Regions from separate parts of the Homo sapiens genome. Here region 1 is linked to region 2. A link means that fine-mapping ties the variant in region 2 to the expression of a gene that starts in the linked region. Tissue or cell type: whole blood. Region 2 holds a variant in brackets; the other region holds the start of a gene. All regions are shown on one strand. Distances are from middle to middle. Region 1 holds the start of LRRN3 (leucine rich repeat neuronal 3). Region 2 overlaps IMMP2L (inner mitochondrial membrane peptidase subunit 2).

Evidence for each region. PIP is the estimated chance that this variant, and not a neighbour inherited with it, causes the effect.
Region 1: LRRN3 starts here. The variant in region 2 is fine-mapped to the expression of LRRN3 in whole blood (TOPMed, PIP above 0.99).

What each region holds. Positions count from the first base shown.
Region 1 is chr7:111,088,874-111,094,263 of GRCh38, reverse strand. It overlaps LRRN3 (leucine rich repeat neuronal 3), which reads right to left and starts at 3,137. Exons shown (of 3, transcript NM_001099658.2): 1 at 2,760-3,137. The region is part of intron 3 of IMMP2L (inner mitochondrial membrane peptidase subunit 2); the gene reads left to right.
Region 2 is chr7:111,017,157-111,022,546 of GRCh38, reverse strand. The region is part of intron 3 of IMMP2L (inner mitochondrial membrane peptidase subunit 2); the gene reads left to right. Among named protein-coding and RNA genes, the nearest start is that of LRRN3, 71 kb to the left of the region's middle. The variant G/A (reference allele first, on the strand shown) is at 3,022.

The DNA of each region.
Region 1 (5,390 bases), 72 kb before region 2:
CTTACATAAGTGTTTTTTTAAAACGAAACTCCGGTTATAGAGCTTTCTGATCAACTTAGATTGTAATAAATACCATAGTGCCATGTTACACAGGAATGTTACACCCCAAAAAAATTCAGATTCGGGGGGAGGAGTGAAACATCAAACCCATCACATGGCGAAAGCAAAAGATGTTACAAAAAAGGAAAGAACAAAGAAACAGTGAAATATAGTTAGTGCATCATAAGTTGATCACCTTTTTTGTAGGTCACTAAATTGCTGGCCTGGAAGGCTGGTAGCACCGTTTATTAAGCCATTAACAACAACAACCACCACCTCCAAATAAAAAATTCCACCTACTCATCAGCATTCTAACTCAGCATGTTGCCTGTGACAAGCGACACCCTGAAAAAAATGGTCCTTTGAATTGTCTTGCCAGGAAGGTGCTATTTCTGGTATAGTTACATGATTTGGGGAGACTATGGGTAAATCTTCCAGTCATACACAAATGTCCATCATCTGGCATTCGTAGGTGCTGATCAAATCACCAAACTCACTGGCACACACTGAGTGGCAACACCGGGGGCCTGGAGTGTTGGTATTTCTCAGACTGAAGTGGGCACATTACTGATCTCTGTAATCCACAAAATATGTATGTGAGCTTTACTAAGGTTAAAGAGTGAATCCACTGTTCTTAGGTGTCATCTATTGCAATTTTAAAATAAGGCGGGTTAGATTTAAGAATGTGTGTCTGGCATGCAAACTTTCCCTGGAAAAGGTCTAAGAAAAACTGAATTAAATACTGCAATGCTACATTATATAGGAGTTTGAAATCAGAGGGTTGAGTATCTACTTCAAGTCTTTTCCTCTTGGTTAGGAACTTAGGAGGTACCTCAAAATATCAGATCTGGTCTGTTTCAAAAGCAGCACTTTTAATAAATAGCAGAAAAGCAAATAAAACACTTTTTCCTTTTTGTAATAAATCATTTTGGTTTTTTTTATAGATTGCATGTGGCATTTGAGGCAGAGCGAGCAAAGCTGCCAATATTGCAAGCTGATGCTTCAGCACCTTTCATTTTTCTCTGAGCAGGAACCCTCTTCTTAAACTTGTTCATCTTACAGAGAGAAAATCGAAGCCACTGGCATATTGTCAGAGCTGCTTTATTGTCATCATTTACAAAGGTCACTGGAATTAATTGACTTCTTATATTACATGTTGTAAACTGACTCATTTTTTTGACACATTTATGGGAAAGTGGCAGGATCTAAGTGGCTGGTTATTGTCTTTTTGCTTTGGCTTATATTACAAACTAGGAAACCAATAATAGCTCTGAAATCACAGTTGTGGAAAAAAATAACCCACAGTTTCAAAGAAGCTGACTCTGTTAACTGTGTGGTTAGTTGAACTAAAAGAAGGCAGGAGAGAGCTCCAGAAGATGAAATACAAATGCTAGGTTTCTTTTACTGTCTTTCCAGGACCCAGTAAAGAGGGCAGTGAATGTTTCCATGAATATCCTCAATTGGTGTTGTCTGTTTGAAAGCATATTCTAAGTAGCTGGCTTCCCTTTACAAGATTGGAAGTAAAAATTAACCCACACTGAATTCCATGAATCATCAATACATGGATGCTCATAGAGTTTACTGAGAGTAATTCTGTCTCAAAGGCATTGCTTCTGAAACTAAAGATGAGAAATATATCAGTAATATTTATGGTACCAGAGCACACTATTTTCTAGGTAGATATTTTGAACCTTTACTTCTATTTTTGTTTTCACATTATCCCCTTTTCACTAAATTAGGACGGTTCTACTCATATTCATAGCCTGCTTTCACTGAAATTAGAGGCAGAGAAACAAGGACATATTGTTAAAAATGAATAAATTAGAGCCGAATTAAGCCATCCAGCTCAACAACAGCAAAGGGAATATAGCAGTTGGTTAGAACAAACAATTTTCTTAAATAGGAAATGTACTTTAAAGCCATCCTGCTGTGATCCTGTTAATTACCAAAGATTAGAACTCTTCTGGTTCATGGGATCCTTTCACCTAGTGTGTGGCAGTTCCAGCTGCATTAGCAATCAGACATTTGCACTGTCCCTTCAGACCAGCGAGGGGATGTTATTAAAGGGAAGTCATTTACCCCAGTCCGTAAGATGTAGCCTGGCAGAAATTCAATAACTGTTTGTGATATGCTCATTCTGCTACTCTGCTTAGTGGTTTAGCTCTTAACATACAACAGCATTTGCCTTAATTTGCATCCACTGGATGAGACAAAATAAAAATGCCCCATTTGGTGGGTTGATTTCAAAACAGAGAATAATGTGTGATCTGCTTTTCACTACAAATAATGTGAAGAAAAAGGAAAATTGCACCCCATCACCCGTGACTCTCCTCTCCTCTCTGTCTCCTCTCTGTCTTCTCTCTTCCCCATCTCCTTCTCTCTCCCTCTCCTCCTCTCTTCTCCCCCACTGTTCCCTTCTCTTCTGTCTCCCTCCTTTTTCTCCTCCCCCCAACACTGCTTTTTCTCTCCCACTCACATCCTCTAATGGGCATTCAAGCTAGTAAAATGCATGTTGGAGAATCTCACAAACACAGCTAGGCACACACAGAGCCAGCTGGGTTTTGCATGTGAATTTCTTCTCAAAAGTGCAATAAAAGAAAAATGCTCTTAGAATTCAGACAAGAAGAAGACATCAAAGGAGGATTTAGGTGTAAAAACATGATCATCGAAGAGACAAGAAATAGAACGTATTTTAAAATATATGTGTATTTTAAACTTACCTTGAAAAGCAGTTTCAGTGCTAGCCCACCTCCGATGTCCTTGCGTGCTGGATTCCTCAGTTCCTTGGTTGAGATAATCACATGGTTGTGTTCTTGCCCGGTATAAATAGGTGCATTTGTGTGTCTGTGTAACAAAGTGTACAAAATATATACTATAGATATGCACACATGCACGCAATCTTATCTCTCTATTTTAAAATATAAAGGAAGGCAGGAGGCTGCAGCCGGGATTCCTTCTTTTTCCTGGAACTCTTTTTCTCAGTCGGCAGGCTGAGGCTCTCAATCCAGTGAAGAGAGATCCTGTGAGCTGGCTTTATTTTTCCTTGTTTCCATGGTGGTTAGTGGTGCATCGTTCACCCGATCAGTTGTCACACTGACATGGTGCTGCCTGCTCAGCGGTCATTAATAACTGAACACCCTCCACTCCCCAGAGAGGAGCCAATCGCTTCAGACAGCCAAGATGTAGCACTCGCAGCTGCTCCAGTCTGGTTGGCTGAAACAAACTGTCTGTTCTATGACACTGCTGCTTAGGATACAAATAAATGAAACAGGCTTGCATGTTTTCCTAGGTATCATTTTCCTTCTTTTTTTTCCTTTCTGAGGGAATGTTGGGAATTTTTGACAAGTTTTCTCAATTTTAGGTTATCAGTCATTCAGAGAAATATGTTTTCAGTCTGCAAATAGAGAGGACACACTACTGATAAGGATTTCCTAAATATTAAAAACACCTGGTAGAGACTCAAACCTCCAACTCCGTCTCTGAAGTTCAGCAATGACTGCATTATTTAAGAAGAGAAGCTTGCAACTGTTTTGAGTGGCATTTGGTTCTCTATAGATCCTACTTAATTTAGCATATGTGCTTGGTGTTCAATAACACTTTTTTTTTTTTTTTTTTAGCAATGACATTTCTTGTCTGGATTGACCAGATTTTTAAAATAAAGCATATATTTGCCTCTCTGTAATTCACAACATTGGCATTTGAGGGGGTACTTTTTAAAAATATGTATTTCTAATTATACTCACTGACTTCTCTTTATATGATGTAATAAATCTAGGAGCTACATATGAATGGGTACATGTGTAGGTGTGTTTGTGTATCTGTGAGTGTGTGTGTGTATTTAGGATGTATTTTTTACCACTCTGGGGAAATATTTCGATTGTAATAAGTTAAATTATTTAAAAGACTATCTTTATTCTTAGGCCTATTAACTCTGAAAGGATATTTCCCAGGAAAATATACTATATAAGCCATACATGTAAAACATTTTTATTAATTACCAGAAATTTGGAAAACACAGAAACACATAGCAGTGCATATTTCTGAAAGAACATACATGAAAAATCAAAAAGCAGTTTTAAAAATGCATGTTTTACAACCTTAATTAGTATACTAGAGAAACATCTTGTTGAGGAGAATGGAACATGAGGATTAATATATCAACAGGTCAAAAGCAGGCTAGTCATGACTCCAACCCCAGTTTTGAGAGACTACCCTCTAGTGGAGTAAAGAGAAATGGCACTTATTAGATTTACTTAGGAAAAAAAAAACAAAACCTTCACATCTAATTGCTCCTTAAGTGCTTATTGACATGACATAGAACAATAGTTTGCAGTTATTATAATAATAATAATACCAGGAAAAATTTTAAACAGTAGGCTTGTCTTTAAATACTGAATATTTTCACTCTGTAGTTTTCTAGAAACAGTTCCCAAATGTTTTTTTCTATAAGAATTTATTCAAATGAATCAAAATAAGTTCAAGATAAAAGTAGCATCTCATTTAACCTAATACTTATTTCAGAATATTATTGTAAGGTTTTATTATTTACTGGATACTCTAGTATTTACTCAGAAAGCACTGAGTCAGTTCTGTATGTTAGGGATCATGGTTGAGTGTTGGGATGTTGTGTTAGAGTATATTTACATATAATTTAATGTACTTTTAATAATAGTAATAATCATCCTTCTTACCCCTTAATTTTAATCTAGCAAATCTTAGTTTCTTTAATATTCCAAATTATTTCAGTATCTGCAGGATTTATTTCCACATATGGAAGAATAATCTTAAAATTGTGATAATTATTTGTAAAAAGAGAATTTTTATTTATGCCATGGTATCTTAAGTGATTAATTTTCATTGATTGGTATTGACTGTATAATTGACAAGTCCAGTAATCAAACCAATTATAATGCACTCCCATAATGAAGGTAAGTTGTGATAGTCAGATACATGATTAAACTCCTCTCTTGGTTTTTAAATGAAACTGCAGTCATACCTAATATCTTAAATTTCAGTCTGTTTCAGAAATCAAGAAAAAATCTTTTCAGTTTTGATTCAGTTAGAATTGTTAAAGGTAGCCATTTATATGTTATCTTACATTATTTCATAGGAAGTTGTTTTAACTAAATGATCACTCTTTTGAAAGTGGGAGATCAGAGTGCTCTTCCTGCAATTGTCCTTTTAATGTAGGTACATGATAAATTTAAAATATTTTATACTCATTTTTATAAATTTAATATCATGGAGCACTAGAAATGAGATTTTAATGTGAAAGAGAAAATGACTCTGGCTTTGGATGAAAAGGATGGCGATTCTGTTCTTTGACTGGAATTTCTATCTTGTTCCAAGAG
Region 2 (5,390 bases):
GTATCTCGGAACATCTGAGGAGGAGTAGAGTTTCAAAAGTCTTCTCCTTTCCTAACACTTCTTGGGGTCTTGTTTATTTTCTTGCCCCCAGGCTGAAAAAACACTTGTAAAGATTGACTTGCAGCACTGAGTCTGTAGGAAAATCATGGCAACTTAAAGCAAACATTAAGCTGGGGTTTTGTTTCCTTTGTTAGATTGATGGGGGCACTTCGTTCTAAGGATGTCACTGATTCTGAAATTATGATGCCAGAGCTACATTTCTGCTATGCCCAGCCTGCATTCACTCATACCACCCTAGTCTTAGGAATTTTTATAGCTAAGCCCATGACTCCCCCATACTTAGGCAGGAAATATGAGATTTAGAAAATGGCTCTGGCTTCAGACTAGGATTTGTTGGCAGAACAGGGCCAGATTTGGTTCACTTGGAAGAAGGGTGGCATAATGCTCAGCATAGGTGATTCTACTTAGGAAATGTTGATTGATTAGGGTGAGTGATATGGTTTGGCTGTGTCTCCACACAAATCTCATGTTAAATTGTAGCACCCATAATTCCCACATGTCATGGGAGGGACCCAGTGGGAGGTAATTGAATCATGGGGGCGGGTCTTTCCCTTGCTGTCTCAGGAGATCGGATGCTTTGTTTGTTTGTTTGTTTGTTTGTTTTGATATGGAGTCTCACTCTGTCACCCAGGCTGGAGTGCAGTGGTGAGATCTTGGCTCACTGCAACCTCTGCCTTCTGGATTCAAGCAATTCTCCTGCCTCAGCCTCCTGAGTAGCTGGGATTACAGGTGCCTGCCACCACCCCCAGCTAATTTTTGTATTTTTAGTAGAGATGGTGTTTCACCATGTTGGCCCGGCTGGCCTCGAACTCCTGACCTCAGGTGATCCTCCCACCTTGGCCTCCAAAAGTGCTGGGATTACTGGCGTCAGCCACCGTGCCCAGATGATCTGATGGTTTTATAAAGAGGTGTTCCCCTGCACAAGCTCTCTTGCCTGCTGCCATGTAAGATGTGACTTTGCTACTCCTTCATCTTCTGCCATAATTGTGAGGCCTCCCCAGGCATGTAGAACTGTGAGTCCATTAAACTTCTTTCCTTTATAAATTACCCAGTCTCGGATATGCCTTTATTAGCAGCGTGAGAACAGACTAATACAGTGAGTAAGGAATCAAATTACAAAGAATGTTTTATACCTGCTTTCAATTTATACCTGCTTTCAGATAGGATTTTCTGAGGCTTATGAGAAAATAAATATTTGCTAAATAGAAGAGAAAAGGAGTGAGAAGAGGGAGAAAGGGCGGAAAGATGAGCTGGATAATGGAAACTGTTTTGTCTGCCATGAGGAAATAGCTAACCTATAACTCAAGTCTCTTTTTTAGGAGTTTCCTGGTATAAGGAATAGTGTATTGTTCACCCACTCTCTATATTGAGCAGTGTTATTCTGAATAGTGTGGTTACTATTTACTAATTTATTAATTATGTTGTAGCTTTCATCACTACACATTATTTTTTGGCAAATTAAAGTCAAATGAGGAAATACTTGATCTATTTTACTTTTACTAATTGTTATATTTTGTTAAAAATGAGCAGGAATTTAAGAAATACCTCATGACACACTTTTTTTAGATCCCTTTGAAAACAATTTGAATATATGAGTCACTGAAATATTTGAAACAAAAACTGACAGAAATGAAGGGAGAAACAGACAATTCAACAATAATAGTTGGAGACTTCAATAACTCACTTTATTTTTCTTTCTTTCTTTTTTCTTTTTCTTTTTCTTTTGAGACAGGGTCTTATTCTGTTGCCCAGGCTGGTGTGCATTAGTGCCATCTCAGCTCACTACAACCTTGCCCTTCTGGGCTCAAGTGATCCTCCCACCTCAGCCTCCTGAGTAGCTGGAACTACAGGCACATGCTACCACACCCTGCTAAATTTTGTGTTTTTGGTGGAGACAGTGTTTTACCATTTTGCCCAGGCTGGTCTTGAACTCCTATGCTCAAGCAATCCACCTGTCTCAGCATCCCAAAGTGCTGGGATTACAGGCGTGAGCCACCCTGCCCGGCCAACAACTCCAATTTAATGTGCAATATACTATAGTAGAACGTAAGTTCCCTAAATGTAGGAATTTGCATCTTGGTTTTTTCGTTTGCTTGTTTGTTTGAGATGGAATCCCTCTCTGTCACTCAGGCTGGAGTGCCATGGTGCGATCTCAGCTCACTGCAACCTTCGCCTCCTGGGTTCAAGCAATTCTTCTGTCTCAGCCTCCCGAGTAGCTGGGATTACAGGCATAAGCCACCATGCCTGGCTAATTTTTGTATTTGTAGTAGAGGCAAGGTTTCACTATGTTGTCCAGGCTGGTCTCGAACTCCTGACTTCAGATGATCCACCCGCCTCAGCCTCCCAAAGTGCTGGGATTACAGGTGTGAGCCACCGTGCTAGGCCTTTTTTTTTTTTTTTAATTGTTGTATCCCTAGTGTCTAGAAAGATACCTAGCACATAGCAGACATTCAATATGTGTCTGTTGAGTAAGTGAATATACTATACAAGTGACATCTAAGAGCTATGTAGAGAAAGTATCCTTCTGGTGATCCGGAAATGCTTCATGGAAGAGATGGCATTTTGGCTTGACATGGAGATGTTACTGTATTCCAGAAAAATGGAAAGGTATGAATATGGAAAGCAGAGGGAAGGAGGGTCATTGAGTTGCCTTTCAATTTATGCCCTTACTTCCAAGAATTTTTTTTCTGGGTATAATAAACAGTGTCACCAGGCCAGCCTCCAGAACCCCTGGTAGTGGGTCCTTTCCAAAGGCACTGGCATTAGCTGCTGATTTATACTGGCTCTTCCAACATGTTTTTAACTCTCTAGGCAGGAGTCTGACTTTCTTTTGTGTTCCTTTTCAACCTTGTCTTTTCTTTTCTAAAGTCATTTTCAAAGGAAGACAGAAGACCTTGTGTAAGAGGAGGCTAAATCCTTTTTTCTTTCAGTGTGACTTCTTGATTCTTTGAAAAGTAGGTG[G/A]AGGCCCCCTTACTGGCTGCCTCCCCCTCTGTCTGCTTCCTGGGCACCTCACTCCTGCCAGTGCTCCCAGGAGGGTGGGGTTGTGACTCTCAACCACTGCAGTTTCCCTGCTGCGGGGCTGCTCTGATTTCTGACTTCCCACTTTGCTCTCCCTGCCCCTTGCCCTGCTGCCTGAACTCTGTTCAAGCACAGCAAGGATACAGATCCTGGAGCTTTGCAAAAAGTAAGGAAGCCCTGGAACACTGGAGCAAAGGCAGCAAAGAGCTCACAGTCACCTTTAGTTCCCCATCCTCCTCCCTCGTCAGTTTTTTTCCCTCTCAATGCCAACAGATATTTCCTTCATGTAGTGTGATTTATTTACCCTCCATCCTCATTCAACACATTTATTGACTGTTTACACTATGCTAGGTGCTCAGAATATAAAGATAGTAATCTCTGCTTTCAAGGAGCAGAATTATCTGCACAGAATCTAGGTATGGAATAACTAGTCATTACAGTGTATCCTCTATTTAGAAGTTATCTACACCCCTAGCTAGCTTGAATATGTTCACTAACTCAGTCGACAATTTGTCTTAATTAACTGATTTAGGTTATTAGAAAGATTGAACCATTGCAAATGTAGGTGTAGGATTTTTTTTAAATCAATGCCATTGTGAAATGAGTATTCATAAAAAATACTGATGCTTGTAATAATAATAATAATAATAATAATAATAATAATAATAATAATAATAATAAAAAGACACACAATTTCCAGTGGTTAGAGGTATGGACTCTAGCCAAAGTATGTCATCCAAATTTTGGTTTATCCTTTTACTACCTATTTGGTATTGGGCAAATCATTTAACTCTGAGCCTCAGTTTCTTTATACGAGAAATGGGAACAATTCTGTTAGCTGTCTGTTGGCATTGTAGGGGTTGAGTATTAAATGAGTTTATGCAAAATACTTAGAACAGTGGCTGCTACACACAAAGCGCCACATGTGTTAGTTACTGTTGAAATGTTTCTACGTTGTAGATCTTAACCACAGAACAGCCGAGAGTTAAATTCTAGTTTGAACAAGGAAAATGTTTCTTTTCTTTAGAAACTGTCCTGTGTTTTAGGGCATTACTTTTCATCCACCATTTCATGCTATTTGTAAGTGAAGGATCCAGAGGTTCCTATGTATATCATCAAGCACAATTTGCAATCAGTATTAACACTTGCGCCACAGAGCCGCTAACACTTGTCCCATTAATACTGAGTTCTATTAACACTGTGTCCCACCATGCTGCCAGGTGATTTTAATGAACACCTGGGGTGGCTCTGCCTCACTGAAACTTGTCTTGCTACCTTTCAGAACAATATATGTATAGGAAATTATTACATTCCTCCTCCTTCTGAAAAATAACCTGGGTTCAAATAATAGTAGAATAATGATGCTGCCTTAGAACTGAAAAATAGAAAAGCAAACACAGTTTAAGAAGAGCTGTAACTTGCAAGTGATTGATAATGTATATTAGAGCCCAAATGCACTAAATATATCCATTGCTTTCATTTTCCAAGATGACTAACAGTTTGTCCAAAAAGTGTTGTTAAGTAGGTTTGTTGCTTTGGGAAAGTAAGCCTATGTATATAATTCAAAATGATTTATTTTTATAAAGTTAGGAGTCTTTCTTTCTGCTGAATGGGTATTTTCTCTGACATTGTCTCTGTAGTTTCTCTTCTTCTGATGGCTCCTACCACGGTCATCTGCCTTTTAGGAGACTTGTCTGGATCTTTGTGAGCCTGGCTTAATGAGGGCTGGGCCCTTAGCTGGGTTTCTTAGGGAGAGAGAATGACAGTGAACATAACACAAAGGGTCAAAACCAAGGAAACCTCTACCTGCTGGTAAAGAAGGGATTGTGTCCCTTAAGATAAAGGCAAGTAAAGGTAAACTGAAGGGGAGTAAAAAGAAAGGACAACGAAGAGGATGTCAGACAATTTCCATATCTGGGAGTGGGGTATCTAAGCCTCCTGTTTTTCAGTCACTGATCCTGTGGTAGTTGACTTTCAAGGCACAAGATTGTGGTACAGTATACATTACCCTCCTTCCAGCTAACCCACATAATAATCTATTATGTTATCCTAGACTTTTGACATTACTGGAAAGTAAGTAATGACCATGGAGTTAAAAATAACAAGGCTGGGCGCAGTGGCTCACATCTGTAATCCCAGTACTTTGGGAGGCCCAGGCAAGAGGATCACTTGAGCCTAGGAGTGTGAGAACAGCCTGGGCAACATGATGAGACCCCATTTCTAAAAAAACAATACGAGCCAGGCATGGTGGTATGTACCTGTGGTCCCAGCTACTCAGGCAGCTGAGGCAGGAGGATTGATTCAGCCCAGGA